Homo sapiens: one gene and its partners. The protein of the gene in region 2 purifies or fractionates together with the protein of the main gene of each other region. This does not show direct contact. Each region holds a gene or a part of one and is shown on either strand. Other genes may lie near its edges.

Region 1 (8,177 bases), on a different chromosome or scaffold from region 2:
TGGCTAATTTTTAGTAGAGATGGGGTTTCAATATGTTGGCCAGGCTGGTCTCGAACTCCTGACCTCAAGTGATCCTCCTGCCTCGGCCTTCCAAAGTGCTAGGATTACAGGCGTGTGCCACCACACCTGGCTAATTTTTGTAATTTTGGGTAGAGACAGGGTTTCACCACTTTGCTAAGGCTGGTTTTGAATCCCCGACCTCAGGTGATCCACCTGCCTCAGCCTCCCAAAGTGGCGGGATTACAGGCATGAGCCACTGCACCCAGCCCCCTGATCACTCTTTCAATTCATACCTCAATCATCTAGAACCTTTGACCTTAAGTCTCACCCACTGGCAAAACCTAAAAGTGAATCAATCAAATTCTGTTCTTACACCTTGAGAGCTTTTAGGAGAATTGCAGCACTGTTTGGATCAATGCCACTACGAATTTGTGGCCTTGGTAAGGCCCTGCCCATGCCCACTGGTCCTACCTGTCAGCCTTCTCCCCTCTCCACAAGTCAGCTTTGTCAAGCCTTTATGGTCTCCTGAAGTGACTCTCCACCATCCATTCTTGGTTTTGCCTTAAACTTAAAAAAACAAAACAAAACAAAGCCTACAAACTTGTCTTTAGATGCTCTAATCCTTGTCTCCTTTCCTGTTGTGTGAATGGAAGAAGCATCTCCCCTCCTGTCGGAGGTTAGTTCCTCTGACGTCTCCCATTCTATCTCACTGCCTATGGACATCCCCCGCTGATTACAATTCCCCTTTCCTTTATATTCTTTCTTTTTTTCTTCTCTCTCTCCTTCCTTTTCTTTCCTTTCCCTTCCTTCCTACCTTTTTCTGTCGCCCAGGCTGGAGTGCAGTAGCACGATCTTGGCTCACTGCAGCCTCTGACCTCTTAGACTCAAGCAATCCTCCCACCTCAGCCTCCTGAGTAGCTGAGACTACAGGCACATGCCACCATGCCTAGCTAATTTTTGCATTTTTAGTAGAGACAGGGTTCTACCATGTTGCCCAGGCTGATCTCAAACTCCTGGACTCAAGTGATTCTCCTGCCTCAGCCTCCCAAAATGCTGGGACTGCAGGCATGAGTCACCGCACCTGGCCTCCTTTATTTTCAACTTTCCATTCTTACTAGCTCTTTCTTTTCTCTTTGTTTTGTTTTTGAGACGGAGTTTCACTCTGTTCTCCAGGCTGGAGTACAGTGGCACGATCTTGGCTCACTGCAAGCTCCGCCTCCTGGGTTCACTCCATTCTCCTGTCTCTGCCTCCCGGGTAGCTGGGACTACAGGCGCCCGCCACCACGCCTGGCTAATTTTTTGTACTTTTAGTAGAGATGGGGTTTCACCATGTTAGCCAGGATGGTCTCGAACTCCTGACCTCGTGGTCTGCCCGCCTCGGCCTCCCAAAGTGCTGGGATTACAGGCGTGAGCCACCGCGCCCGGTCTTACTGGCTCTTTCTACTCAGCATGTAACTATGCTTGTCTCTCCTATAATAAAATACCTTTCTCAGTCTTGTGTCTTCCTCTTATTATCATTACCTTACTTACTTTTAGAAGTAAAGTCCTCGGTTTTTCTATTCTTCTTTTTTTAACCTACAGAAATCTACCTTTTCTCATTATTCCTCTGAAATAAACCTGCCTAGGTTATCACTGTCTACAAGCTTTCCCTTGTAGGAAAGCTCCTCCCTGTAGTATCTCACCATGCTGATCACTTTCTCCTTGAAACTCTCTCCTCTGCGTGTCCATGAATGACTCTCATTTTTCTCTAACCTCTCCTTATCAGTTTATATGTTAGGCTATGTTCTCTCAGGAGCAATCTGACAAGGATTGAATGCACACAGTTTACTTGGGAGGTGATCCTAAGAAACACTGGCAGGGGAATGGGGAGGTAGGGCAAGGAAAGGAAGGAAGACTGTATGGGGAGTGCTAATGAGCAGGTGTGGCTGTGGGCAACTGGGGTTCAGTTCCATTGAGGAAACATTGGGAGACCATGGAATGTACACCTCCAAGTGGTTCCACACGAGGAATGAGTTGGGCTGTTTGATCCATTGTTGGGGAGGAAAAACTTTTCCTGCACTCTCTTATGTTCAGTTCTGAGGGGCTGCAAATTTAACTGACAAGAGAAAAAACATATATGCATATGGCACTGCACAAAAGAAGTGATGATGATTTATTTACCTAACTTAATAGGGGAGAGAGGGGGGCAAAAAGGCTCCTATGGGAAGAACAAAGGGGTTTCTAGGGAACAAACAGGAGATAAGGAAGTTTGTGTTCATAGGGAAGTTGTTTATGCAGGTGCACGTGGTTTTCTATTTCATGTCCATAAACCCCTGGAGAGGGGATGAATGGCAACCTCACTCCCAGAAGATTCTGCTTTTACTGAAATAAAGGAAGCTTCAAGAAGGCTTCTTTTTGCCTCTATTGAATCTTACATGTCTTTAGTTTAAAATAATCCTCATGCCAATTTTAGGGTTGAGAGTGCATCCTCAAACCACCAATTCCCCAACATCCCTGGATGAAGGCTCTTCCTGGAGGTGTTGGCTCCTTGGTAATTCCAGCCTGCCTTTCCTGCTGGCTGCTTCCTCCTTCTGTTGGAAAAAGCTTAGGCAGAGAGTTCAGGAACAAATGCTGAGTGCCAAGGGGACGTAGGCTACTGCCTATTTTTCTCTTCCCCCACTTGCTTATTTAATGTGGGTATTCGCCAAGCTTCTTTCCCCCCGTCCCCCACCTTTTCACACTCTTCATTTTTGCCAGGTGATCTTATCAACTCTCAGTTACCTAATGCTCTGATGTCACGCAAATCTACATCCCTTCCCTTCTCATGTCCCTCAAGGTCTAGACCTGTATACAGAATACACCTGCCTGTTGAGCGTCTTACCTTGGGTTGTCCACTGCAAACTCTCAACATAAATAACACTGGGGTTATAGTCCCTCAAATCCTGTTTATTTTCTGTTATTCCCCACCTCGTCTTGCTTTTCTAGAAATCCATTCTTCTCATTGCTGCCAGGGGTCTTTCTAAAACACCTATCCTACAATATGGCCAGGTACTATTTTAGGTGGTAGGGATACAGCAATGAACAAAACAAGGTTCCTGCTTTCATGAGCCTGAATTCTATAGCTAAATATATAAATACACAATAAAGAAGAAAAATATCAGTGGTAAGTTCCATGCAGACTGGGGAGCTACTTTAGATTTGAGAGGTCAGGAAAGGTTTTGCTGAAGAGAAGACATTAAAGCTCAGAGCTGAATGACACACCTTGAGTGGCACTCAGGAGACATCCACACTTCCCAGATGAAAATCCTTTAGTGACTTCCCAAAGTTCTCGGGATATAAGTCCAAATTTCACAGCATGGCAGAGAAGGTCTTCTGGCATCTGGCCAGTTGTCTTCCTCTCTAGCTTCTTTACATTACATGACATTAATGCATTTAATCCTCACGAGCACCTTGCAAAATAGCAGCTAGGCTGGCTGAGTTCTCTGATGGTCTGATTCATCTTTGTACTGTCACTGCGTTAGTAGTTGGCTCAACAAACGTTCATGAAACAAGCAAGGTGTTGGACAAAAAGCATGGATGCTTAAGGCAGGTCTAGACTGGTGCTGCTCAACAAAAATAAGGTAATCCACATTTGCAATGTAAAATTTCCTCATAGCTACATTAGGAAAGTAGAAGCAACACATGAAGTTGTCATAACATTTTATTTATCCAAATATATCCAAAATATTATGTTTAACATGTGATTCATATAAAGTTAGTGAGATATTTTACATTCTTTTTCTCATTCTCAGTCCTCAAAATCTAGTGTGTGTATTTCACACTTATATCACATCTCAATTCGGACTAGCCACTTTCCAATAAAGCTCAGCAGGCCCCGCGGGGTGGCTCACGCCTGTAATTCCAGTGCTCTGGGAGGCTGAGGCAGGTGGATCGCTTGAGGAGTTCGAGACCAGCCTGGGCAACATGAGGAGACCCCGTTTCTACAAAGCAAAACAAAAACCAAAAAAATTAGTGATGCGAACCTTCGGTCTCAGCTACTCAGGAGGCTGAGGTGGGAGGATCGCTTGAGCCCAGGAGTTCCAGGCTGCAGCGAACTACGATAGCGCCACTGCACTCCAGCCTGGGCGATAACGTGAGGCCTTGTCTCCAAAAATAAAAATACAACAACAACAAAAAATCCCAGAAGTGCTCAGCAGCCACATGTGGCTAGTGGCCACCTCCCGCGAAGCAGCCCGGCCACTCACCTCCTACCACCTTTTACCTATTTCTCCTTCTCCGCAGGCCTCCCTAGCACTACCAGTTGTCTTGTTGGCGAGTCCTTTGTGACTCCCACTATACAAGCCCCTCAAGGCCAGGCTTCGCCCTGAACGGTGCCTGGGCGGAGCAGACGCTCCATCAACGCTGTCCCCGCCTGAGTCCACGTCCAGGGGATCCGCAGGCGCCGTACCCTGCTTCCACGCGCCGGGGCCGCCCCTCGCCCGGCCTCCCGCAGGCCCACCCCTCGCCAGGCCCAGGCCCATCCCCGGGCTGTTCGCTGGAAATCGTGGACGTGACTGGGAGGAGCCTGCCCGCCCCGGCTCGCTGCGCCGCGCGCACAGGGCCCGCGCCAGCGACCATGGCGGAGCCCACAGTGTGCTCCTTCCTCACCAAGGTGCTGTGCGCCCACGGCGGCCGCATGTTCCTGAAGGACCTGCGCGGCCACGTGGAGCTGTCGGAGGCCAGGCTCCGGGACGTGCTGCAGCGCGCCGGGCCCGAGCGTTTCCTGCTGCAGGAGGTGGAGACGCAGGAGGGCCTCGGGGACGCGGAGGCCGAGGCGGCGGCCGGCGCGGTGGGCGGTGGCGGCACCTCCGCCTGGAGGGTGGTGGCCGTGTCCTCTGTGCGCCTCTGCGCCCGCTACCAGCGCGGCGAGTGCCAGGCCTGCGACCAGCTGCACTTCTGCCGCCGGCACATGCTGGGCAAGTGCCCCAACCGGGACTGCTGGTGAGAAGGCGGCGGCGGGCGGGGACTGTGGGCGCTGGCCGCGGGCCTGGCCGTCCTGCTGGAAGCGGGAGCGACGGGAAGGGGGGCTTCGTCCTGCCCCGGGCCGGGGACGCGGGGCTGGACGACCCCCTCCCGCAGGCCTTTCCTGGGCGTCCTCCCCCGCGCTTCCAGCAGCTGGGCGGAAAGGCGCGAAGGTCCTCTCCATGGAGACGTCTCAACCGCCCACGCCAGAAAAGTTGCTGCCCCCGCCCGCCCCCCCGGATCCTGCGCGACGCGGCCGGGTTAAATCCGGACTGGGACTTCGGAGCTCACTTATTCTGGTGATATTTGGCGGGAGGTGGGGGGCGTGGGGCGTCTGAGGATCCCATGAGATCCCTGGACCCTTTAGCCGGAAATCGCTGCTCCCCCATATCCACACACTTGTGCAGAAGCGGGTCTGCGCCCTCTAGGTTTAACAGCGCTGAGCCAGTCTCACCCCAGGAAACAGGGCTGGATGGCTTGGGTGAGGCCCTGTGGTTCCTGACTGCCAGAGCTGGGGTTCGGGGCTGCCTCCTGACCCCAGGCTGTGCTTCACAGCCCCGAATTTTCCTTGGTTGTCTCTAGCCACACACCCCGCCAAAGCGGTGCTGGGGATAGGGGCGCTTTCTTTTTAACGTTGGTGGACTGTGGCAGCTGTTGCCGGGGAGAAGGCCAGGTGCAGTCGCCTACGGAACAGATGTGCATCCTCAGGCGAGGTGGGCGACCCTTGGCTTCAAAGCATCCCTACTGAAAATTCAAATGACCCTGGGAGAGGAGTTCCTTCAACCCAATTTTCTTATTTTCCATCAGTGCTTATTAGGCCATACTATCCCCGGTTTCATGAAAATTACTCAACTTCACATGTATTAAATACATTGAAAGCTGCTCAAGGCAAGGAATTGGACAGACTGGTCCTTCTTCACCTGGGCATCTGACCGAGGGCTTTGTTCTTTTAGGTCTACCTGTACCCTTTCCCATGATATCCACACACCTGTCAACATGCAGGTCCTGAAAAGCCATGGACTTTTTGGTCTCAATGAAAACCAGCTTCGGATCCTGCTTTTGCAGAATGACCCCTGTCTTTTACCAGAGGTGAGTCACCAAGGAGTCACCCTCATGTCACATTTGCTACAAGTACTTTCCCCATTTATTTTTCTTTTGGCTTTACATATTAATTTTAATTGCCTTCGAAGCAACATGATTCAGTTTCAAATGCTTTAAAGGTACCCTTTATAATTGCTATCATGGCGAAATAGTACGTTTGTTTCAGTTTAGCCATACACAAAGAAGTTTTAAAAACAAAATAGTACAAATCCCAAGAGAAAATTGGAACATCAATTAAGACCACCAATTAAAAGCAAGATTTTCTAATCTAGCACAGTGATGCTATCATAGACACCTCCACTTGGCCAGAAGAGGGATGGGAAGAAGGGGAGATGTTGAGAAAACAGAGGATAGTTCATAATTGTGGCCTGATTTTAACTCTAATGCATTTCAGCGTCTAGAAAGGAAGATAGCCACAAGACTAGAGGTAGGAGCTGGAGCCTTTGGTGCAGGTGGCAGAGGCTGCTCTCAAGGCAGCAGAATCTGTACCCAGAAGGCAGTCCTGGAGTTGATCTCAGGAACAAGCAGGTTTCTTCCTGACATGCATAACCTGTTTCATTTCTTCGAGCACTGAAGCCAAGTCTGGTATGTCACGGTTGTGAGCCAGAGGCATTCCAACCAACCATGTTGCCCAAAGTAGATGCAAGCAGTAGCTGAAGCAGGTTATTGGCAGGAAGGGAGAGGAGGGTGGCTGCACCTATGAGGCTGGGTCCAGTCCTTCCTGTCTCAGAGAGAAGGCGTGGTGCCGCTGCTATTTGCCTTTTAATTTTATAGTACTTTTTGATTTATAGAAGTTTAGTGTTTTTATTTTGTCAAATCTATCGAATGTTTTTTTGGTATGCCCTTTTTTAGGATGTATCTTGGGCCCAGCCTCACCTTGTCATATTAGACTACTTCAGTGTTTTGTGAGCAGCTGATGGGTTGGCTGCACTTACAACAGGAGCCTCCCCTGTGCCTCCACTTGTCCCCATCACCTGGGACTGGAAGTAGGTGACATGTGGCACAAAACGTGATCATGTGGGCAGCAGGGACTGTGGAAAAACACAGTGCATGAGGCAAGAATGGTGCCTCACATCTCTTGTATGAAATGCCTGATGATTGCTTTTACCACTCTCTCAATAAAAAAGACAATAGACAGGTAAAGTTTCATGCTGGTGCATTGATGGACAAATTTCTAGAAAAATACAGCTTGTCAAAATGGATTCAAGAAGAAACGGAAAGCCAAAATAGTGTCATAAAAATTTTTAAAATAAAAGCATTAAACAAACCTCAAAGCATTAGTTAGAAGGCTTGCACAAGAAAACATCAGACTTATATAGTTTTTTTTTTTTTGAGACAGGGTCTTACTCTCTCACACAGGCTGGAAGTACCTCGGCTCACTGTAGCCTCTGCCTCCTGAGTTCAAGTGATTCTCCCACCTCAGTCTCCTGAATAGTTGGGACTACAGGCACGTGCCACCATGCCCAGCTAATTTTTGTACTTTTTGGTAGAGATAGCGTTTCACCATGTTGGCCGGGCTGGTCTTATATGCCTGACCTCAAGTGATCCCTCTGCCTCAGCCTCCTAAAGTGCTGGGATTACAGGCGTGAGCCACTGCGCCTGGCCAGGCTTATATAGTTTCATAGTTGAATTCTATCAAATTTTTGTCTTTATTGAAGTGTAGTTGACAAATAAAAATTTTATATTTACAGTGTACAATGTGGTGTTTTAATATATTTACATTGTGAATTGATTGCAATGATTAAGCTAATTAGCATACCATTACTTTACATGGCTATTATTTTTTGGGTGTGGTAAGGACAGCAATTTTCAGGTATACAGTATGTTATTTTTTTAAATTTTATTTTATTTTTTATTTATTTTATTTTATTTTTATTTTTATTTTATTTTATTTATTTCTTTTTTTTTGAGATGGAGTCTCACTCTATCACCCAGGCTGGAGTGCAGTGGTGAGGTCTCGGCTCACTGCAAGCTCTGCTCCCGGGTTCATGCCATTCTTCTGCCTCAGCCTCCCGACAGGCGCCCACCATGATGCCCAGCTAATTTTTTGTATTTTGTTTAGTAGAGATGGGGTTTCACCTTGTTAGCCAGGATGG
Region 2 (5,345 bases):
TCACAGCAACCTCTGCCTCCCGGATTCAAGCGATTCTCCTGCCTCAGCCTCCAGAGTAGCTGGGATTACAGGCACCTGCCATCATGCCCGACTAATTTTTATATTTTTGTAGAGACGGGGTTTCACCATGTTGGCCAGGCTGGTCTCAAACTCCTGACCTCAGGTGATCCACCCGCCTCAGCCTCCCAAAGTGCTGGGATTACAGGCATGAGCCACTGTGCCCGGTCATGCCAGGCTAATTTTTGTATTTTTATTTTTTTATTTTTATTATTATTATTATTATTGAGACGGAGTCTTGCTCTGTCGCCCAGGCTAGAGTGCACAGGCTGGAGTGCAGTGGCACGATCTCTGCTCACTGCAAGCTCCGCCTCCCGGGTTCACACCATTCTCCTGCCTCAGCCTCCAGAGTAGCTGGGACTACAAGCGCCCGCCACCACGCCCGGCTAATTTTTTGTATTTTTAGTAGAGACGGGGTTTCACCGTATTAGCGAGGTTGGTCTCGATCTCCTGACCTCGTGATCCGCCCGCCTTGGCCTCCCAAAGTGCTGGGATTACAAGCGTGAGCCACCGCGCCCAGCCTAATTTTTGTATTTTTAGTAGAGATGGGTTTTCACCATGTTGGCCAGGCTGGTCTCAAACTCTTGACCTCAGGTGATCCACCTACGTTGGCCTCCCAAAGTGCTGGGATGACAGGCGTGAGCTACCGTGCCCGGTCACTGAGTTCTTATTGGGCAATAATGATTGGCTTAACCAAAGGCCTGGCAGCCTTTGTACCAAACTGCTAACACTGTTTACCTCTAGGGAGGGAGACTATGGAAAATGAGGAGGATACTTTCATTTTTATTTTATATCGTGAGGTATTGTTTGGATTGTTACAATGAACTTGCATTTCTTTTGTAATGAAGAAAATAATACAGAGGAAATAACAACAACTAAACCTTTGGCCTGGATTATCATCGGCTGGAAATTCATGTTGGATGCAAGTTTTTATTGATAACAAGTTATTTTTTGGTTTATATGCAAAAAATGTTCATTGAATGCCTCCTATTTGGCTGGCACTGCCTAGGCACTTTCACAGGTATTTCATCCTAATCCTCACAACAGCCCTATGAGGTAATCATTGGTCCCAGTTTACAGAAGCCTTGGGTGGGAGATTATTGCTTGATATACTTCTATTTGCCACACATTTTTGTTGGCAAGACGTTCGTATCGGCTGGTGATTCACTGGTCAAGAGCTCTCATTGGCCAGGAGTTCCTATTTGTTGCTGTAAGATTCAAATAATCAAAATACTAGAATTTTTCCCCCACAAGAATGATGGGACCAATGGCATAAGAGTAAAGGAAGGAGAGTCAGTGGGTCTCTCCCTTTGAAGCACCATTTGAGTTTGCATTGGTCAGCCCCACACAGGTGGGCGGGATGAGGTGGTGGAGGAGGAGACGCGGTGGTTATAAGTCTTCTCGCTTCAGTAGGATGAGCTTCCTCACGAGCGCTGTGATCTGGGGTCTGACCTCCTCCACTGACACAGTTGGGTCCCAAGCCCCTACCACCTTTCCATCTGGGGCTACTAGGTACTTCCAGAAGTTCCAGGTGGGCTCCTTCCCAGAAGTCTCTAGAGAAAAAGGAAGGAGAGCAAAGCGTGCTACCCTGCGTACCCTCTCCTGGGACTTCACTCTCAGTGTCCATCTTTCCCTGGTGGCAGCTAATCCTGATGCCCAGTCCACACCCCAGACCACTCCAACCAGAATCTCTGAGGGTGAGGCTCAGGCATCAGCATTTTTCAAAAGCCCCCTGGGAGATTCCAAAGTGGGGCCGAGGTTGAGAACGACTGCTGTAGGATTCTGTGACGTGCTTGATAAAGTGGTATCAAATCCTCCTTTATTAATGACTTCGAACTACTGAATAGTCTACACCCTATTCTCTAGTTCAGTTTTAATGGTTTCCAAATGTTAGTCCATGGACTGGTTTCATCAGAATCACTGGGGGTCAGGGGAGTGCTTAAAATAAAGATTCTTGGGCCCTGCTTCAGTAGGTCTCAGCCTTGTGCATTTTTAAGAGCTCCCCAGGTGCTTCTAAAAGCAAGGCCGGGTTTGATCTATAACTGTGAGAACTGGGAAGGAACTAATAAAAGAACACAGAGAAAAAAATCAACATTAGGACTGAGCCACAGAGCAAAACACAAACCTGCCGCAGTAAGGGACCTTTTGTTTGCTGCACTCTTGCTTCTCATTTACTCCTCCAGGTGAATGGGTTGCAGGGTGGGGTGGTGGCAAGGGATACAAAGGCCACCAGAAGCACGGAATCAGAAAAGGCAAAAATGGGGCCTCCAGAGGAGAAGGCCTGAGGGAAGAAATGGTCAGAATGGCAAGCTTAGCCCATGAGCCCATTCTGTGGCTCTGAGGCTTCTGCAGCTGGAGAAGGGATCTTGTTCTCAAATACTAAGATCTGGTATTTTAGCTTAGAAGGTCTCCCTCCATGGCCTACAGACTCCGCCACTGACTCAGGGTGAAGATGCCTGTCTACTATCTTGGTCAGCTTTCTCCAAGCAGGTGGCCTCCCCTGTCTATGCCTTGGTTTCTCCATCATATGTCCATAAACTCATCTAGTTCACACTGACTTAAATGTCTCCTTCTAGGAGCCCCTGAATGTGAAAACAGGATCCCAGAAAAGTCCAAAAGAGTGACTTCTGAGGGACAAGTGAGAGGCAGCAGGTATGGAGATATTCTTAGGCAGGAATACCCCTCAGCTTCTACCTGCCTCCACTCTCCTCAAAGATTAGTGCTGGAACAAAGCATCAGTCCACCTGAGATGATCAGGAAGGGGAAGGGGCCCCAGGTCACCCAACCAGCCAGTGGCTTCTGCTGCCCAGGGAGCCATGGCCTCAGCCAGCTAAGGGAGGTGTGAGGGGATGAAGAGACCAGGACTTACGGGCCAGGTACTTGAAGGCAGGATGGGCACCAGTACCGGTGACTGCAATCTTGCTAAACATGGGGAATGAGACACTGTAGGTGCGGCGGGCAAAGCTCTCAATCTCCTTGTTGCTGTCAGGCTCCTGTTGGCCAAACTGGTTGCAGGGGAAGGCGAGCACGTTAAAGTGGTGGGGGCCCAGGTCTCGCTGCAGCTGCTGCAGGGCTCGGTAGTGCTGGTCTGTGAAGCCGCACTCGCTGGCCACATTCACCACCAGGGACACCTGTATGACAGAAACAAAACAAAACAAAGCCCAGACAAGCCAGTGAAGAGGCATGAACCTGTACATGCCCTGACACATCCACATATGTGACTCCCTCAACAGTTAATACTGCCTCACACATACAAGAACACTGTGTACACATATGTAAATGTGTGTCCAGTGCTCTCACACATACACAAACACATGCACACAGACAGGCACATATGAAATCAAACATTCAGGAGCTTACAGATGTGTGCACACATACATGAACATCTGTGAACATAAGTATACAACATACATAAATAGGTATGCACATGCACCACGATACAAACATGTTAGCAAACACCACACATGCCCACACACACAGCACATCCACAGACTGGGGCACACATACTGGTGAGCACATACTGAGAACTGATAAGAGGGGGTACAAAGGGAGACCTGGGCTCAATTTTTGGCTCAGTCAGCTAGCACTCGCCACTCTGCACTGTGTCAGTCTCCCTTCTAGAATGTGAACCTACTGAGGGCAGGAGCTATGTCCACTTCATCTCTGGGCCTGGCATATGAAAAAGTCTCAGTAAGTTTCAGATGAATGAGTAAGTGTGCACACAAACACAAACGCCTGCATGGGAACATAGACACAGGTTTTCTTGAGAAAAGAACCCTCATAACTCCAGGGCAATCACCTTTTTGTCCCCCTCCTCTCCAGAGAACTAACACCACTTTTGTTGTTGTTGCTGCTGGAGCAATGGCATAATCATAACAGGACATCCCCCCAACCGTTTGCAGTCTCAAACTTCTGAGCTGAAGTGATCCTCCCACCTCAGCCTCTCAAATAGCTAGGACTACAGGCACGTGCCATCACACCTGGCTAATTTTTTAATTTTTACTTTTGGTAGAGACAGTTCTCGCCATGTTGTCCAGGCTGGACTCAAAAACTCTTAGCCTCAGGCAATCCTACCAGCTAAGCCTCTCAAAGTGCTAGGATTACAGTCATGAACCACCATGCCCAGCCTACCACTTTCTTTTATCATTAGACTAATCCTTAAATTTATTAAAGCCTTTAGGCAATAAATACAAAGCTGGCTAATGGAACTTGATTATAAGACTTTGATTAGAATTTTGGCTCAAATGCTATGTTTTTAGCTTCTAGGTATATATTATTAATGGATTTAAAACCCTAGCCGGTGCCTAGGCAGCCTAGCCCTATCCTCCATAATTGACATTTGGGTCAGATAATTCTTTGTTGTCGGGGGGATGTCCTGTTTATTTATTATCAGATGTTTGGCAGCATCCCTGGCCTCTACCCACTAGATGCCCAGTCTTGACAATCAACAATGTCTCCAGACATTGCCAATTGTGCCCTAAAGGGAATAATCACTCCTAGTTGAGAACTACTGGGCTAGATGATTGAACCACTGAGCTGTACCTCCTGTACCCTACCTCCACCAGGTGAGAAAGGACCCATGCCTGGGGCCACTGGCTATTAGAACAACCTCCTCAATTTGAGGTCAGCATACACCATACTGTGCCTGGAATGGTGAGAAACTGGGACTGTTAACTCCCTTCCTCAGTTAGGGTTCTTCCTTTTTTTCCCCCTGCTGGATCCCTGGGCAATGAGAACATTAAAGCTTTTTTTTTTTTTTTTTTTTTTTTAAAGACAGAGTCTTGCTCTGTTACCAAGGCTGGAGTGCAGTGGCGCGATCTTGGCTCACTGCAACCTCCACCTCCCGGGTTCAAGCAATTCTCCTGCCTCAGCCTCCTGAGTAGCTGGGATTACAGGCACACGCCACCATGCCCAGCTAATTTTTGTATTTTTTAAGTACAGACGGAGTTTCACCATGTTGGCCAGGCTAGCCTCGAACTCCTCACCTTGTGATCCACCCGCCTCAGCCTCCTGAAGTGCTGGGATTACAGGCGTGAGCCACTGCGTCCGGCCAAAGCTTGCTTATTTTTAACTCACAACTTGCATGTCTGCCCGCTCTTTTGGAAGGGGGAAAATCTGGCTTCTAGTTCCATCCCTGAAACCAAAAAGCTTGGTCCTTAGAAACCAAAACACAGACAGACACACCCAAGTACACACAGTTAATTTACATATGTACATATACAAGCACAGACACAGACTCAGATTTGTACACAGAAGAAGTAAACCATTCACAAAGGCACACACTACAC
Region 3 (8,164 bases), on a different chromosome or scaffold from region 2:
GGAAGAAGGCTGGTGTCACTGTCCATATCAGGTGGGATAGACCAAGGCAGGAGGTGACGGGTGACGTTGCAGGGGCGAGGGCAGTGACATGGCTTCAGTACAGGCAGCACAAAGGGCAGAAGGAGGGGTGAAGTTGACAGGCCCACGCTGATGGCCGCCTCTCTCCCCAGGCAGTGGAACAGGTAGACAAGAACAGGATATAGTTTTTTTTTTTTTACAAGGTTTAACCAACTTGACCTGAGTTTTGCAAACTTCAGCGAATACTTGGAGAAATGGCATCTGTTCAAGTGGGCGTTTATTAAAGTGGACTCCACGTTGGGTCATACAGCAAGTCTCAAGGCATCTCAACAGTGGATTAAAGTGGGAATCAGTGACAGGAAAACACCCAGAGACCGTATGCTCGTTAAGTGACCTGTGTGCCAAAAAGGAAATCACTGTTGAAATGAGAAAATATTTTAAACACATTGATAATCAAAATACCACTTACCAGATGTGTGGGGTGCATCTGAAGCAGGGTTTAGAGGAAATGTGTAACTTCAAATGCATACATTAAAAGGAAGAAAGGTTGGTTGCGCACAGTGGCTTACAGCTGTAATTCCAACACTTTGGGAGGCAGGAGGATTGCTTGAACCTGCGAGATCAAGGCTGCGCTGTGGGCGAGAGGCGTGTTCCCTGCGTGGTGAGCCTGCGCCGTGCCTGGGCGAGAGGCGTGTTCCCTGCGTGGTGAGCCTGCGCCGTGCCTGGGCGAGAGGCGTGTTCCCTGCGTGGTGAGCCTGCGCCGTGCCTGGGCGAGAGGAGCACAGGGTTGCAGCCATGGCACAGATGTAACAGCTGAGCCTGTCAGGAGTCCGCTCTGCCCTGTTGGAGCTAGTCTGGCAGGAGCCTGCGGGCAGTGTCCTCTGCAGTCCAGGGCTCTCGGGAGTGGCCAGCCCTGCTCACAGACCTCATTGTGCCCTCAGCGCCAGGCTGGGTGAGCCGAGCCTGCAGGCCCAGTGCCCAGGGCCATCTCAAGGGGCAGCTGGGGGAGGGAGGCTGGGCATGAGCGGCACTCCCTCTGGGGCTGCCCAAGTTCGGTCTGTCCCAGGACCCAAGCCCGTCTGGCCGACCTGGCTCCCTGCACACTCCCTCCCTCCGTGCCCCTCCCACTGTGCCTCTCCGCCCTCGGTCGTGGCCGGTCTGAGCCTCCGCTGCGGTGGCCGTCGGATTCTCTGCTGGTGCCTGCAGGCTCCTCTGCAGACGTTGCCTCCTCCACATCTCCACGCCAGCTGTGCCACCGCTGTGCAGTCCCTGCCACCCCTGACGACAGACAGCGGCACGCAAAGAGGCTCGGGCGCAGGGGGAAGCTCGTGTTGGCCCCGGCTGGAGTGCACATCAGTCCCGGCTTCGGCCGTGGCCACCTCCGCCCAGAGCCTTGAGTGGGCATTGAGGGGGCGCTGCTCTGCGTGAGGTTGGCCACCCCTCAGGGCGGGCACAGGGTGCTCTCCCCTCGTGCAGGGAGAGGATGTTTTAGAGGGTGAGCAGGAAGGGGTGAACTAGAGGCCTTTCACACATCACAGGCATGTGTGGAGCTCAGAGAAGTGACAGTTAAAACCAGCCGTGGCTCTGACCCACACAGGCCGCCGGGCCCGTCTCCCTGCCCTCCCTCGGCGGATCCCACTCTGCTCTGGGTGTTCCTGGCCCTGCAGACACTGGCAGCCTGGGTTTCCCAGGAACTGGCCGCCACTCTTTTGTGTTTCTTCTTTATTTTCTTAGGTGTATAACATTCAACATGTAGAGATTTTAGGTGGCGTAAAATAAGACAGGCATGGGGAGCCTGCTGCCCGCTGGAGAGCCCAGGCTTATCAGTGCAGTTTATGACAGTGGGATCAGAGATGATCATAGGAAATGTGTGAAATAGCCTGGAATTCCTTAGAGAGCTGTGGGGCTGGGAAATGGTCAGTGTCAGGTCACACCTGCCTCCCCGTGCGGCCAACACCCCAAGGCGGGCCCTGCTGACCCCTGCCCCTGCTCCCCACCCACATGGCCGACACCCCAAGGTGGGCCCTGCTGACCCCTGCCCTGCTCCCCACCCGCACGGCCGACACCCCAAGGCAGGCCCTGCTGACCTCTGCCCTGCTCCCCACAGCTCAGCCTGGGCTGCCTCCCCAGCCCCACAGTGAACACAGCTTTGTTTCCCCCGGAATCATGTTCCCAATTCCCTGGCAGCCGGATTCTAGAGGTCTTGGTTTTATGGGCATCTGTTGACAGTTGTGGATTTTTGTCAGGGCGGACGTCGTCATTTTTATGGAAAACACATTTAGTATCCCAGAGTGCGTGCTCTGAGCTGCCGGGTGGCTGCAGTCTGTGTGTGCTGGGTAGTGAGGGCCAGCGCCTGCCTTGGAACCCTGGGGTCCCACCTCAGAGCTGCCTGCCTGGGTGCCGGAGTCTCCAGCTGTGGGATGTTGTCCCGTCTGCTCTGAGCACGTGGCCTCCCCTGGAGTTGCAGGAAACATGGCGGCCCCGCCCGGTGCCCCTCTGCCTTGAACACAGTCGCGGGCATCCCCACTGTGACGTCCGAGGAGCGAGTGAAATGATGCTCTTCTGGGGCCGTGACCGGGGGTGCTGGTGCCCTGTGGGTTCCTGGGACAGCTGCTGGGTCAGCTCACAGGGCTCCAGCTTCCGCAGGCGGGGGTGGCCGGCTGCCCTGGTTGTTCTCGCCCCGCTGCCTGCAGCTGCCACCTGTTTCCATGCACGTTTCTTTAGTGAATGTCCAAGGACTTACAGACTACTTGGGTGGCCTTCCTAAGTGGTGTCTACTTGTAACCGCAGGTATGACCTGGACGCGTGTGACATTCAAGAAAAATACCCGGATTTATTTCAAGTGAACCTGGAAGTGGAGGTGGAGCCCAGGGACAGGCCGAGCCGGGAAGCCCCACCATGGGAGAACTCGAGCATGAGGGGGCTGAACCCCAAAATCCTGTTTTCCAGCCGGGAGGAGCAGCAAGACATTCTGTCTAAGTTTGGTAAGATCCCGCAGGTGAATTAGGTGAACCCTGTTCTGGTGAGTGTCTCTGTGGAGAGAGACACCTTTGGCTGAGCTCTGGCAGGGCTGGGCCCCACGCCTGCTGCTGCACCCAGGCCCTGAGCAGCTTGGGCTGCAGGAGGTTTTGGAAACTCCGTCGTGGATGTTGGACACCACCACCAGCTACACCAGAGAAGGACTCGCAGGCTGCAATTTCTGAGGCCCATGGGCAGGGACGGAGGCAGAGGGAGGAAAACCCAGGCTCCTGGAGCGAAGCGGGGTTTTGTCCCAGGCGTGTGTCTGGGTCAGATTTTTGTCATGTGTGCTGGACACACGTCCACTCTCACTGTGAGCCTCAGGCCTGCTGGCAGCATGTGGAACAGAACCCTCGCTCCTGTCGCTCTTCACTTCCGAGCAGTTTCGAAACGGCAGCCCAGGAAGTGCTGGCAGGTGGGCCCAGGGCCGTCCACTGCTCATGCCACGCTTGTTCTCGGCTCTTGGTTTGCAGTGTTTGCTTTTTCTTTCTGAGCATCTTCAGCGTCCCTGAAAGAGGCTGTATGTGTGACCTGTGCGTGCTGTGTATGTGTCCGTGGGTGGTGTGTGCCGTGTGTGTGTGTGCACGAGTGGTGTGTGCATTCATGTGTACTGTGTATCTGTGTGCTGTGTGCATTCGTGTGTACAGTGCATCTGTGTGTGCTGTGTGTGCGTTCGTGTGTACCATGCATCGGTATGTGCTGTGTGTGCGTTCGTGTGTACCGTCCATTTGTGTGTGTGCATGCATGTGTACTGTGCATCCGAGTGTGTGCATGTGTGTGTACCGTGCATCTGTGTGCGTGCATTCATGTGTACCCTGCATCTATGTGTGCTGTGTGCATTCATGTGTACTGTGCCTGTGTGTGTGCATTTGTGTGTACCATGCATCTCTGCTGTGTGTGCATTCGTGTGTACTGTGCATCTGTGTGTACTGTGTGCATTCATGTGTACTGTGCATCTGTGTGTGCTGTGTGTGCATTCATGTGTACCCTGCATGTGTGTATGTGCTGTGTGTGCATTCGTGTGTACTGTGCATCTGTGTGTGTGCATTCATGTGTACCCTGCATGTGTGTATGTGCTGTGTGTGCATTCGTGTGTACTGTGCATCTGTGTGTGTGCATTCATGTGTACCCTGCATGTGTGTATGTGCTGTGTGTGCATTCGTGTGTACTGTGCATCTGTGTGTGTGCATTCCTGTGTACCATGCATCTGTGTGTGCTGTGTGTGCATTCCTGTGTACTGTGCATTTGTGCTGTGTGTGCATTCATGTGTACCGTGCATCTGTGTGTGCTTTGCATTCGTGTGTACCCTGCATGTGTGTATGTGCTGTGTGTGCATTCGTGTGTACTGTGCATCTGTGTGCTGTGTGTGCATTCATGTGTACTGTGCATCTGTGTGTGTGCTGTGTGTGCATTCATGTGTACCCTGCATCTGTGTGTGTGCTGTCTGTGCATCCGTGTGTACCATGCATCTGTGTGTGCATTCATGTGTACTGTGCATCTGTGTGTGCTGTGTGTATTCATGTGTACCCTGCATCTATGTGTGTGCTGTCTGTGCATTCGTGTATACTGTGCATCTGTGTGTGCTGTGTGTGCATTCGTGTGTACCCTGCATCTGTGTGTGTGCATTTGTGTGTACTGTGCGCCTGTGTGTGTGCTCTATGCATTCGTGTGTACCGTGCAGCTGTGTGTGTGCATTCATGTGTACCCTGCATATGTGTGGCGTTTGATGCCTCAGTGGTGGGTTCCTTGTGCGTGTTCATGTGTGCGTGTGCTGTGCCCAAGTGTGCACGCATGGCCCAGAGTGGCATCCGAGTGGATAGCAGGAATCTGTTCAGAGAGCCCCTCCCCGTCATGTCATTGGTCTGCTTTACCGATGGCCTGGCCTGCCACGGTGCTGGCGCCCGCCTGGCTGCACTTCCCAGCTCTGGGGTCAGTGTTGCCCCGAGGCTGCTGGCCAGTGCCAGTGCCCTGACGCCCTCCCTCTCCTGCAGGGAAGCCGGAGCTTCCCCGGCAGCCTGGCTCCACGGCTCAGTATGATGCTGGGGCAGGGTCCCCGGAAGCCGAACCCACAGACTCTGACTCACCGCCAAGCAGCAGCGCGGACGCCAGTCGCTTCCTGCACACGCTGGACTGGCAGGGTAGGCAGCGTCCCTGGACCTGGCCACTTGCAGAGGGCAGGCCCCTGGTCTGGAGGTGCCCCTGGGGCAGGGCAAGCGTCTTGGGAGACGGGCCTCCGGCAGAGCTGAGTTGCACCTCAGTGGGGCTGTGCACCCGGCATGTCAGCCTGTTCTTTAATGGCTCACGAGCTAAGAATGATTTCATATCTTTTTAAAGGTGAAAAAAAAAGAACATGCCCACAAAGTCTGAAATAACAACCCTCGCTCTTCATCCCAGTCTGTGGGCCTGGGGAGGCTGGCAGCATGGGCCATGCTGGCGGGGCCCCTGGGTACAGGGGAAGGGCCTGGGCGGAGGGACAGACTGTCACCACCTGGGGATCCCACACCTCTCTTTGCCCACACCCCCAGTGGGCTCCCAGCCCCTCTGAGGCTTTTCAGGAAAACACCTGGGCGCCATCACTGGACCTCACCCCAGACACACCCCAAGGGATGCACCTGCCACTTCCTGTCCCAGCACCCCTGGCCTTCCCATCGGGCTCGTCCCTTCTGCCGCCTGTTCCCAGAGCACCCTTGATTGGTGTTCCTACCCCCTAGTGCTGCCATGTGGCCCCCACTTGACTCAGCCTGAGGCACCGCAGAGGCCCAGGCGGAGAGAGCCACAGGCAGACCCTTGAGGCAGAGGCTGGAGGTGGGTGTGCTGGAGACGCCTCAGGAACAACACCCCACCGCCCGCCCAGAAGCTTCTGCAGCACTCGCCAGGGCCCTGGGCCAAGGAGGCGCTGAGGGGCCGTGCCATGGGGACATTGGTGCTGGCCATGTGGGTTCGCCAAGGCCCTGGGCTGAGGGGACGCGCCGTGGGGACCCTGGTGTTCCTGCAGCACTTGCCAAGGCCCTGGGCCGAGGAGGTGCCGAGGGGCCATGCCATGGGGACCCTGGTGCTGGCCACGTGTGTTCACCAAGGCCCTGGGCCGAGGAGGCCCTGAAGGGACGCGCCGTGGGGACCCTGGTGCTGGCCACGTGTGTTCACCAAGGCCCTGGGCCGAGGAGGCCCTGAAGGGACGCGCCGTGGGGACCCTGGTGCTGGCCGTGTGGTCTCACTAGCCTGTGGTTTTGTTTCCTTTTCGCAGAAGAGAAGGAGGCAGAGACTGGTGCAGAAAATGCCTCTTCCAAGGAGAGCGAGTCTGCCCTGATGGAGGACAGAGACGAGAGTGAGGTGTCAGATGAAGGGGGATCCCCGATCTCCAGCGAGGGCCAGGAACCCAGGGCCGACCCAGAGCCCCCCGGCCTGGCAGCAGGGCTGGTGCAGCAGGACTTGGTTTTTGAGGTGGAGACACCGGCTGTGCTGCCAGAGCCTGTGCCACAGGAAGACGGGGTCGACCTCCTGGGCCTGCACTCCGAGGTGGGCGCAGGGCCAGCTGTACCCCCGCAGGCCTGCAAGGCCCCCTCCAGCAACACCGACCTGCTCAGCTGCCTCCTTGGGCCCCCTGAGGCCGCCTCCCAGGGGCCCCCGGAGGATCTGCTCAGCGAGGACCCGCTGCTCCTGGCAAGCCCGGCCCCTCCCCTGAGCGTGCAGAGCACCCCAAGAGGAGGGCCCCCTGCCGCTGGTACGTGTTTCTGTTCTGAAGGCGAGTGGCTTCACAGTAGATGAGTGATGAGGCTGAGTCATTCTCACTGCATGGGCGTGTTTCGAAGGTGCTTGCAGGAAGGGAACGTGCCCTTCCCCCACCTCCCCCAGGAGCAGCCTCGGGGTCATGTCAGGGTTCTGTGCTGCCCACCTGAGCTCACGGGCCGGGAGCTACTGGCTTCTCCATCTCAGCAGTGTTGCTGTGTCCCTGGGAAAGTCATCCTGAGGCGTGGGGCACGGGGAGCCCCTGGGCTGACTGCCTCAGTGCCCCTGCGAGGGCAGCCGTGGGGTCTGGGCTGCCCAGCTGGAGTGGCCTCTTGGGCAGGCCTGACTCCAGAGCTGGGCTCCTTTGTCTTCAGGCAGCCGGGCTGAGTCCTCCCCATGCCCGCCTGTCCCCACAGCTGACCCCTTTGGCCCGCTTCTGCCGTCTTCAGGCAACAACTCCCAGCCCTGCTCCAATCCTGATCTCTTCGGCGAATTTCTCAATTCGGACTCTGTGACCGTCCCACCATCCTTCCCGTCTGCCCACAGTGCTCCGCCCCCATCCTGCAGCGCCGACTTCCTGCACCTGGGTAAGTGCCTCTCGCCTGGCAGCCAGCTCTCCATGGCCGCCTCCCTCAGGACCGCAGCCTCTGGTGGGAAACAGAGCTGTGGGTCTCAGGCAGTGGTGGGGCTGGACTGTGTGGCCTCCGGGTGCGCTCCTTGCGGCCCAAGCATCCTGCAGGACGTCCCAGAGGTCAGGACAGACTGCTCCCTGCTCTGTCTCCCCAAACCATCCCCAAACCTGGAACAGGTTGTGGGGCCCTGCAGTGCCTCAGTCGTCTGTGACTGGCAACAGGTGTTTCTCCAGGCCTCCTCAGGCCCAGGCCTTGCAGCTGTTAGCAGAGAAGGCCACCTGCACCCAGAGCTTGTGTAGGGACCAGAGGTCAGAGGGAGGCAGCTGGGGGACCCAGGGTCCGGGAAGCTGACCTGGTCTGGGTGTAGCAGGGGCCGTGGGGCACCGTATCCATGGGGAGGAGGTCAGGCGCCGGGGCACAGCATGGCTTGTTTAGACAGACGCCGGTGGGGCCAGGCCCTGGGAGAGGGCTGCGCGCCCCTCCAGTGTGGTCCTAGGGGAAGGAGCCTGGGTTCTCTCTCCTGAGGAGGCAGCAGCGTGGTCCACGGCGTACTCTGGGGTGATGATGGTGACCATTGCAGGATGGCTTGTGGGCGGGTGTGTGGAGTGCAGCCTTGCAGCGTTGGGGCGGGTGCCGCCAGAGGTGTGCTGCGTGGCCAGAGCCAGGGCAGACAGGACCTGCTGGGCCCTCTGTCTGCCGAAGGCAGCTCAGCCAGGTGGAGCCACCTCGGGCTCTGGTGGGTTTTAGGAGAGGCGGGAACGCAGGCTGTG
Region 4 (8,164 bases), on a different chromosome or scaffold from region 2:
AAGGGATCCACCCACCTTGGCCTCTCAAAGTGCTGGGCTTACAGGTGTGAACCACAGTGCCCGGCCAATAATTAATAATTTCATTACTTTTTTTTGAGGCAGGGGCTCGCCTTTCACCCAGGCTGAAGTGCAGTGGTGCCATCATGGCTCAGTGTAGCTTCCACCTCCTGAGCTGAAGCCATCCTCCCACCTCAGCCTCTGGAGTAGCTGGGACTACAGGTGTGTGCCAGTATGGCTGGCTAGCTTTTGTGTTTTTTGTAGAGACAGGGTTTCGGCATGTTGCCCACGCCCAAAATGCTGGGATTACAAGTGTTTGTGAGCCACCGGGCCCAGCCTTACTTTTTTTATTTTTGTTTTTGAGACAAGAGTCTTGCTCTGTCACCCAGGCTGGAGTGCAGTGGCGCGATCTTGGCTCACTGCAACCACTGCCTTCCGGGTTCTAGTGATTCTCAAGTCTCATCCTCCTCAGTAACTGGGATTACAGGCGTATGGCACCGCACCCAGCTACTTTTAGTAGAGACTGGGTTTTGCCATGTTGGCTAGGCTGGTCTCGAACTCCTGGCCTCAAGCAATCCACCAGCATCGGCCTCCCAAAGCGAGTGCTATGATTACAGGCATGAGGCATCATGCTCGGTCCTAGCCTTACTTTTTAATCCCTTCACAAATTGATTGATTGGTTGATTAATTGAAATAGAGTCTCTCTGTGTCACCCAGGCTGGAGTGCAGTTGCACAGTCTCTGCTCACGCTCACCGCAACCTCCGCCTCCTGGGTTCAAGTGATTCTCCTGCCTCAGCCTCCCATTCCTTCACAAATTTAAAATCAGTTCTAGAATGATGAGCTTAACATCAAATTTTTTTTTTTTTTGAGATGGAGTTTCACTCTTATTGCCCAGGCTGGAGTGCAGTGGTGCGATCTCGGCTCACTGCAACCTCCGCTTCCTGGGTTCAAGCAGTTATCTGCCTCAGCCTCCTGAGTAGCTGGGATTACAGGTGCCCACAACCACGCCAGGCTAATTTTTGTAGAGACAGCGTTTCACCATCTTGACCAGGCTGGTCTTGAACTCCTGACCTGGTGATCCACCCGCCTCGGCCTCCCAAAGTGCTGGAATTACAGGCATGAGCCACCACGCCCGGCCAACATCAGTTTTTTAAAAAAATTAAAAGAATTCCAGAAACGTTCATTAGATAGATATTTCTGAACAGGAGTAGCATTGGGAGTAGCATTACTCCACTAAGACTGTAGTCCTGGCCAAACTGAACTTACTTTTCCCCTCCTCTTTCTCTCTTGTCGTTTTCTTTCTTTTTTTTTTCTACTGGGTTTGTAGATCAGAGATTGTCAGAGACATAGTGTGTATCAGGACTTCAGCAAGAGATTTGCCTCTTGGTGAGCAAGATAGAGGAGAGTGAATGTGATGAGTGTAGAGAATTGAAAAGTTACTGCTTGTTTATCTATTGTCTGTCCACTTGGAAAGAGGTGTACTGCAAGATTTTTTCATCTTGTAAATGCATGGAAGGTTTGAATAAAGAAAAATTATGTCAGACCAATTTTCCAGTGGGGGAGAATAGCTAATATGTTGGATGACGGAATCAGGATTCAGAAAGAACCAATAACAAGATCACATGTTTATAAGACTAGAAGTTTTGGTTGGGCATGGTGGCTCATGCTGTAATACCAGCACTTTGGGAGGCTGAGGCAGGCAGATCACCTGTGGTCAGGAGTTCGAGACCAGCCTGGCCAACATGGTGAAACCCCCATCTCTACTAAAAATACAAAAATTAGCCGGGTGTGGTGTTGGGTGCCTGTAATCCTAGCTACTCAGGGGCTGAGGCAGGAGAATTGCTTGAACCCAGGAGGTGGAGGTTGCAGTGAGCCAAGATTGTGCCATTGCACTCCCAGCCTGGGAGACAAGAGCGAAACTCCATCTCAAAAAAAAAAAAAAAAAAAAAGACTAGAAGTTTTGAGCTTAGATTTAAAAAGACAAAAGACAGCCGAACAAACAATATATGAACCTTGGCTAAGCTATTGTTTTTGGAAGAGGTCCTATGAGTAGATTGCTCACTCAAAATGAGCCAAGACCATATTATGTCAAAAATAGATTTTTTTTTTTCCAAATAATACACTCACTCTTGCCCAGGCTGGAGTGCAATGGTGCGAGCACTCATTGCAGCCTCGAACTTCTAGGCTCAGATGATCCTCCTGCCTCAGCCTCCCAAGTAGGTAGGACTACAGGCTTGTGCCAGATGGCTGGCTAATTTTCTTATTTTTTGTAGAGATAGGGTCTCCTTATGTTGCCCAGGCTGGTCTTGAACTCCTGGGCTCAAGTGATCCTCCTGCCTTGCCGTACCAGAGTTTTGGGAATTACAGACTTGAGCCAGTGTGCCCAGCCAAAAGATTTCTTAAAGCTAAATTAGACTGTGAAAGCACAAACCATGAGAGAAAAGACTGATTTATTTGATTGTGTTCAAAATACAAATTTCTGGAGGGGCGTGGCGGCTCACGTGTGAGACAGGCAGATCGCTTGAGCCCAGGAGTTCAAGACCAGCCTAGGCAACATGGCAAACCCCATCTCTACAAAAAATACAAAAATTAGCTGGGCATGGTGGTGCACACCTGTAGTCCCAGCTACTCTGGAGGTTGAGGTGGGAGGATCAGTTGAACCTGGGAGGTGGAAGCTGTAGTGAGCCATGATGGCGCCATTGCACTTCAGTCTGGGTGATAGAGACCCTGTCTCAAAAAAAAAAAAAATTTTTTTCTGTGCAAAAAAGACACTACAAATAATGTGAAAATACAAGCCACAAAATGTGAGAAAATATTTACAACACATAATTAGAACTACATATACACATATATAAAGAACTGTAAATCGAGAAGAAAATGAAAACTAAAAAGAAAAATGGGCAAATCATGTGAACGTGAAAGTCACAAAGGGGAAACATCACTTGTAGTTAAACTTATGAAAAGACATCAGCCTTATCAGTAATTAGTTAAATAAAGATTAAAACAAGGTGTAGGGGCCGAGCGCGGTAGCTCATGCCTGTAATCCTAGCACTTTGGGAGGCTGAGGCGGGTGGATTACTTGAGGTTGGGAGTTGGAGATCAGCCTGGTCAACATGGTGGAACCCCATCTCTACTAAAAATACAAAAATTAGCCAGGCACGGTAGCACGTACCTGTAATCCCAGCTACTGGGGAGGCTGAGGCAGGAAAACTGCTTGAATCCGGGAGGCGGAGGTTGCAGTGAGCCTAGGTTGCGCCACTGCACTTCAGCCTGGGCGACAGAGCGAGACTCCATCTCAAAAAAACAAACAATAAAAAAAAACCAGGTGTAGGACTGCTTTATATTCATTATAAGAGCAAACTTTTTTTTTTTTTTCTTTTTTGAGATGGAGTCTCGCTCCGTCACCCAGGCTGGAGTGCAGTGACATGATCTCGGCTGACTGTAACCTCTACCTCCTGATCAGCCTCCCAAGTAGCTGGGATTACAGGCACACACCACCAGCCTCGGTGAATAGGGATATAGCTAAAGGGATAATGTTGAGTAGAAATATGGATTGATGGGCCGGGCACGGTGGCTCATGCCTATAATCCCAGCACTTTGGGAGGCCAAGGTGGGTGGATCACTCGAGGTCGGGAGTTCAAGACCAGCCTAGCCAACATGGTGAAACCCCATCTCTACTAAAAATACAAAAATTAGCCGGGCATGGTGGCAGGCGCCTGTAATCCAAGCTACTCGGGAGGCTGAGGCAGGAGAATCTCTTAAAGCCAGGAGGCAGAGGTTGCAGTGAGCCGAGATTATGCCACTGCACTCTAGCCTGGGCGACAGAGGGAGACCCCGTCTCAAAAAAACAAAACAAAACACCTATGGATTGATGGATGTAGCATGATACCATTTATGTAAAATTTAAAGGCATTCAAGACATCATTATAATAAAGTCCAAAGTCATGTTTGGGAATGATAACAAAGTCAAGGTAATTGCTGCCTCTGGAGAGGGAGAAGAGTAGAATCAGAGATAGGTACATAGGTAGCTTCATTTTTATACGAACTGTTTTATTTCTAAAAAAGATTTGAAGCAAATGTAGTGCAATGTAGGTTTGGTGTAGCTGCATTGTAGCTGCATGGGGTGTTTTATATGCTTGAAATATTTCATGGAATAATTTTTAAGTGAAGCATGTAATTATAAGCTTGTTAATTCTGTTTAAGTTTTATAGCTAAGTGAATTTTAAGTGAGTTCTAGACATTTATTGTAAATTATGTGATAGCACATTATTTTTTATTTTATATTCTCGATTTTTGTTTTATGACTTTAACTAAATTTCCAGTATTTAAAAGGTTTTAGATTTTCTAGCTTCTCATTTTTTTGTATGTTTTTCTTTCATAGTATGAAATTAATCTTTTGGAGCTGATCCAGAGAAGAAGAACAGTAAGTAGAAGATTTTCTAGAAGTTGGAGAAAAATACAGAACTAAGCAGTATGGCTGTATAGTTAGGACTTGTGTTTGGGAGACAGTGTTGATAAAACTGTGGTGATATGCCTATAATGGATATTTGTAATTATTTGTTTGCTTCATCAGTACCATTAAGTGGTCAAGTAGGAATGCTGTTTTGGACAAATATGATTAAGTTGAGGCTCTGTTTTTTTATGTCCCCCTTTAGCGCATTGGATATTCATTTAAGAAGGATGAGATTGAGAATTCTATTGTACACCGGGTACAAGGTGTTTTCCAGCGTGCCTCAGCAAAATGGAAAGTGAGTGATCAAGGCATCCTTAACTTTATGAGATGTGAAGATAAGTATTATACATATTGTATTAGGGATTCAAATGCAGTTTTCTATTTTTATCTTGGGTATCTTTATACTTACTCTAATGATGGTATCATTACTCAAAACATTTTTTGAGCCACTTAACAAACCAGTAAGAAAATTGATCTTATTACCTTATAGTTATTCTATGAGGACAGTGCTGAAAACAGTGTATTTGATACATTACTAAGGATTGGAAATTTGGGAGATATTTGTATATATTTGTAAGTACACTGAAGACTTAGAGCTAGAAAATAAATGGTTATGTAGGGGCAATACCTCAGAAACTTGATTTTTTTTTTTTTCTTTTTTTTTTTTTTTTGAGATAAGGTCTCACTGTGTTGCCCAGACTAGAGTACAGTAGGGTGATCTCGGTTCACTGTAACCTCTGCCTCCCAGGCTCAAATGATTCTCCCACCTCAGCCTCCCCAGTAGCTGGGATCACAGGCGCATGCCACCGTGCCTGGCTAATTTTTGTATTTTTGGTAGACATAGGGTTTCGTCATGTTTTTTAGGCTGGTCTCGAACTCCTGGGCTCAAGTGATCTGCCCACCTCAGCCTCCCAAAGTGCTGGGATTACGGGAGTGTTTGGGATTGGGTATATTATATGAGAAGTATTTTGGATTCTTGGTAATGACAAATTTTATATTGCTACCCCAGATTGAGATTCTTTAAGAACTGCATTAAACCAACTGGATAGATAACAAAGTTTTTTTGGAGCATTGTGAGTGGGAGTTGGGGGAAAGGTTGAATTATCATAGTTAAGAGATCGGAGGCCTTTGTGAGGAAGAGCCAGATAGGATGAGAGGTGACTGGATTTTCTGAAATCTGCTTCTTTTTTTTTTTTTTTTTTTTTGGTGGGGGATGGAGTTTTGCTCTGTTGCCCAGGCTAGAGTGCAGTGGTGTGATCTTGGCTCACTGCAACCTCTGCCTCCCAGATTGAAGCAATTTTCCTGCCTCAGCCTCCCCAGTACCTGGGACTTCAGGCACGCACCACCGCGCCTGGCTAATTTTTGTATTTTTAGTAGACAGGGTTTCACCATCTTGGCCAGGCTGGTCTCAAACTCCTGACCTCAGGTGATCCACCTGCCTCAGCCTCCAAAAGTGCTGGGATTACAGGCCTGAGCCATTGTGCCTGGCTTTTTTTTTTTTTTTTTTTTGAGGTGGAGTCTTGCTCTGTCACCCAGGTTAGAGTGCAGTGGCACACAATCTCGGCAGCTCACTGCAACCTTCGCCTCCTAGGTTCAAGTGATTCTTCTGCCTCAGCCTCCCTAGTAGCTGGGATTACAGGCACATACCACCACACCTGGCTAATTTTTTTTGTTTGTTTTTTTGAGTTGGAGCTTCCCTATGTTGCCCAGGCTGGAGTGCAGTGGCCCGATCTCGGCCTCCCGGCTTCAAGCGATTCTCCTGTCTCAACTTCCTGAGTAGCTGGGATTACAGGGGTCTGCCACCAAGTCCGGCTAATTTTTTTGTATTTTTAGTAGAGACGGGGTTTCACCATATTTGACAGGCTGGTTTTGAACTCCTGACCTCAAGTGATCAATCCGCCTTGGCCTCCCAATAATCTTTGTAATTTTAGGTTAGGTGGGGTTTCACCATGTTGGCCAGGCTGGTTTCAATCTCCTGACCTCAAGTGATCCGCCCGCTTCGGCTTCACAAAGTGGTGGGATTACAGGTGTGAGCCACCGCATCCAACCTGAAATTTGCTTGTTTTTAGCAAAATTAATTAATGCAAAGGTGTATTATATGTAAAGGTCAAATTTGGGCAGCTTACTACATTGCTTTTCTTGCAGGACGATGTTCAACTTTGGCTCTCCTATGTGGCTTTTTGTAAGAAGTGGGTGAGTAAAGCCATGCATGTCTTGCTTCCTCTGACCGTCTTTTTGTTAATCTGCCCTTTAAGCTTCATGCCAGATGTTTTTTCCTGAAGTGTAGGGTTAACATGAAAAAAGAACCCAAGAAGGCGGAACATCAATATAACATTGGATATCTGAATGACTATGGTTTCCAATTCAATTGAAAAGAATATAATTTTTACGTGTGTTTGTTCAATACAGTTGACTTTTTAAAAAGATATTTAAAGTGTTTAGTGGTTTAATTGAGGTAGAAAATTTTGAGGGTCTGTGTTCGTTTATATATCCCTAGCAATAGCATGTCATGCTCCATTGGATTTTACAGTTGGTAAAGTTAGGGTACATATTACTTAGAGAGTAAGATCAATGATTTATCTGTGCAGGAAGTAGAAATATTTTCCTTTTTTACAGGCTACTAAAACTCGACTTAGCAAGGTATTCTCTGCCATGTTGGCGATTCATTCCAACAAACCAGGTATGGTGAAATCTTTGTCAATTTTTCTATGTTTTATTTAGACTCAAGCCATTTTGGATTTTATTTCGATTGATGAATCTAAGAGAAATTATTTTGAGGACTTGAGCTTAGGCAGTTGGCCTCAGCAGTTTTTCTTACTGAATAGCTGCCTCATAGTTCACCCCTGCCTACTATATACTAGTTACTGTCCTAGGTGTTGTATCTGCAGGCAAGAAGGACTGTATTTCTTTTTTTTTTGAGACGGAGTCTCGCTCTGTCGCCCAGGCTGGAGGGCAGTGGTGTGATCTTGGCTCACTGCAACCTCCGCCTCCCAGGTTGAAGCAATTCTCCTGCCTTAGCCTCCTGAGTAGGTGGGATTACAGGTGCCCGCCACCACGCCCAGCTAATTTTTGTATTTTTAGTAGAGACTGGGTTTTACCACGTTGGTCAGGCTGGTCTCTCGAACCCCTGACCTCGTGATCCACCCGCCTTGGCCTTCCAAAGTGCTGGGATTACAGGCGTGAGCCACCACTCCCGGCCAGACTGTATTTCTTTTTAGATGATGGCAAAATAAACTTTTGAATCCTTTGTGGGACATTTTATTTGGAGGCAGTCAAATCTGAGGAATTTTAGAAGCTTAAAGGGGAAAATATCAATATAAATTTTAGAAGAGTGCTGGTACAGAGTAGACTCATGTTTTGTAAGAGAAATATTTCTCTTGTGAATAATGTATAAATGGTCTAGTTGATAGTGGAGGGGCCTCAGCACCTATTCTCAGGGTATTAGGCTTAATCAGATATCTTATACCACACAAGACTCAAATAGACTACATTTGGCACCAGTTTACTCAGAAATATAGCAGGATAGCCTTAGGTATGTTCCTTCTGCAGAATGCTCTTAGCAGAATGGAGGTAGCCTCTGGTTCCTAAGGTGACTGTTCAGGTATGAGGAGATGAGATCATATCAGTAGGTAGGGGATCCAGTCTGGTTTAGAAGCCCCATGGATGGGCATGGCTTCTACAGATCCTAGAAAGGTCATGCTCAATTTTAGGAG

The links.
Region 1: the proteins of GPX7 (region 2) and ZC3HAV1L purify together in Homo sapiens (affinity purification with mass spectrometry; 2 studies listed by BioGRID and IntAct, with this or other methods). This does not show direct contact.
Region 3: the proteins of GPX7 (region 2) and GAK purify together in Homo sapiens (co-immunoprecipitation; 3 studies listed by BioGRID and IntAct, with this or other methods). This does not show direct contact.
Region 4: the proteins of GPX7 (region 2) and UTP6 purify together in Homo sapiens (affinity purification with mass spectrometry; 2 studies listed by BioGRID and IntAct, with this or other methods). This does not show direct contact.

What each region holds. Positions count from the first base shown.
Region 1 is NC_000007.14:139,032,435-139,040,611, reverse strand, and holds the start of ZC3HAV1L (zinc finger CCCH-type antiviral protein 1-like), read left to right. Parts: upstream 1-4,569; 5' UTR 4,570-4,594; coding exon 4,595-4,959; intron 4,960-5,933; coding exon 5,934-6,069; intron 6,070-8,177.
Region 2 is NC_000001.11:52,604,527-52,609,871, reverse strand, and holds the end of GPX7 (glutathione peroxidase 7 precursor), read right to left. Parts: intron 3,189-5,345; coding exon 2,927-3,188; intron 1,611-2,926; coding exon 1,447-1,610; 3' UTR 821-1,446; downstream 1-820. UniProt on the Homo sapiens protein: It protects esophageal epithelia from hydrogen peroxide-induced oxidative stress. It suppresses acidic bile acid-induced reactive oxygen species (ROS) and protects against oxidative DNA damage and double-strand breaks.
Region 3 is NC_000004.12:865,549-873,712, reverse strand, and holds part of GAK (cyclin-G-associated kinase), read left to right. Parts: exon of another isoform or gene 1-412; intron 413-487; exon of another isoform or gene 488-645; intron 646-2,808; coding exon 2,809-3,002; intron 3,003-5,027; coding exon 5,028-5,174; intron 5,175-6,280; coding exon 6,281-6,757; intron 6,758-7,178; coding exon 7,179-7,349; intron 7,350-8,164. UniProt on the Homo sapiens protein: Associates with cyclin G and CDK5. Seems to act as an auxilin homolog that is involved in the uncoating of clathrin-coated vesicles by Hsc70 in non-neuronal cells. Expression oscillates slightly during the cell cycle, peaking at G1.
Region 4 is NC_000017.11:31,891,227-31,899,390, reverse strand, and holds part of UTP6 (U3 small nucleolar RNA-associated protein 6 homolog), read left to right. Parts: intron 1-4,379; coding exon 4,380-4,421; intron 4,422-4,653; coding exon 4,654-4,746; intron 4,747-6,596; coding exon 6,597-6,644; intron 6,645-7,067; coding exon 7,068-7,131; intron 7,132-8,164. UniProt on the Homo sapiens protein: Part of the small subunit (SSU) processome, first precursor of the small eukaryotic ribosomal subunit.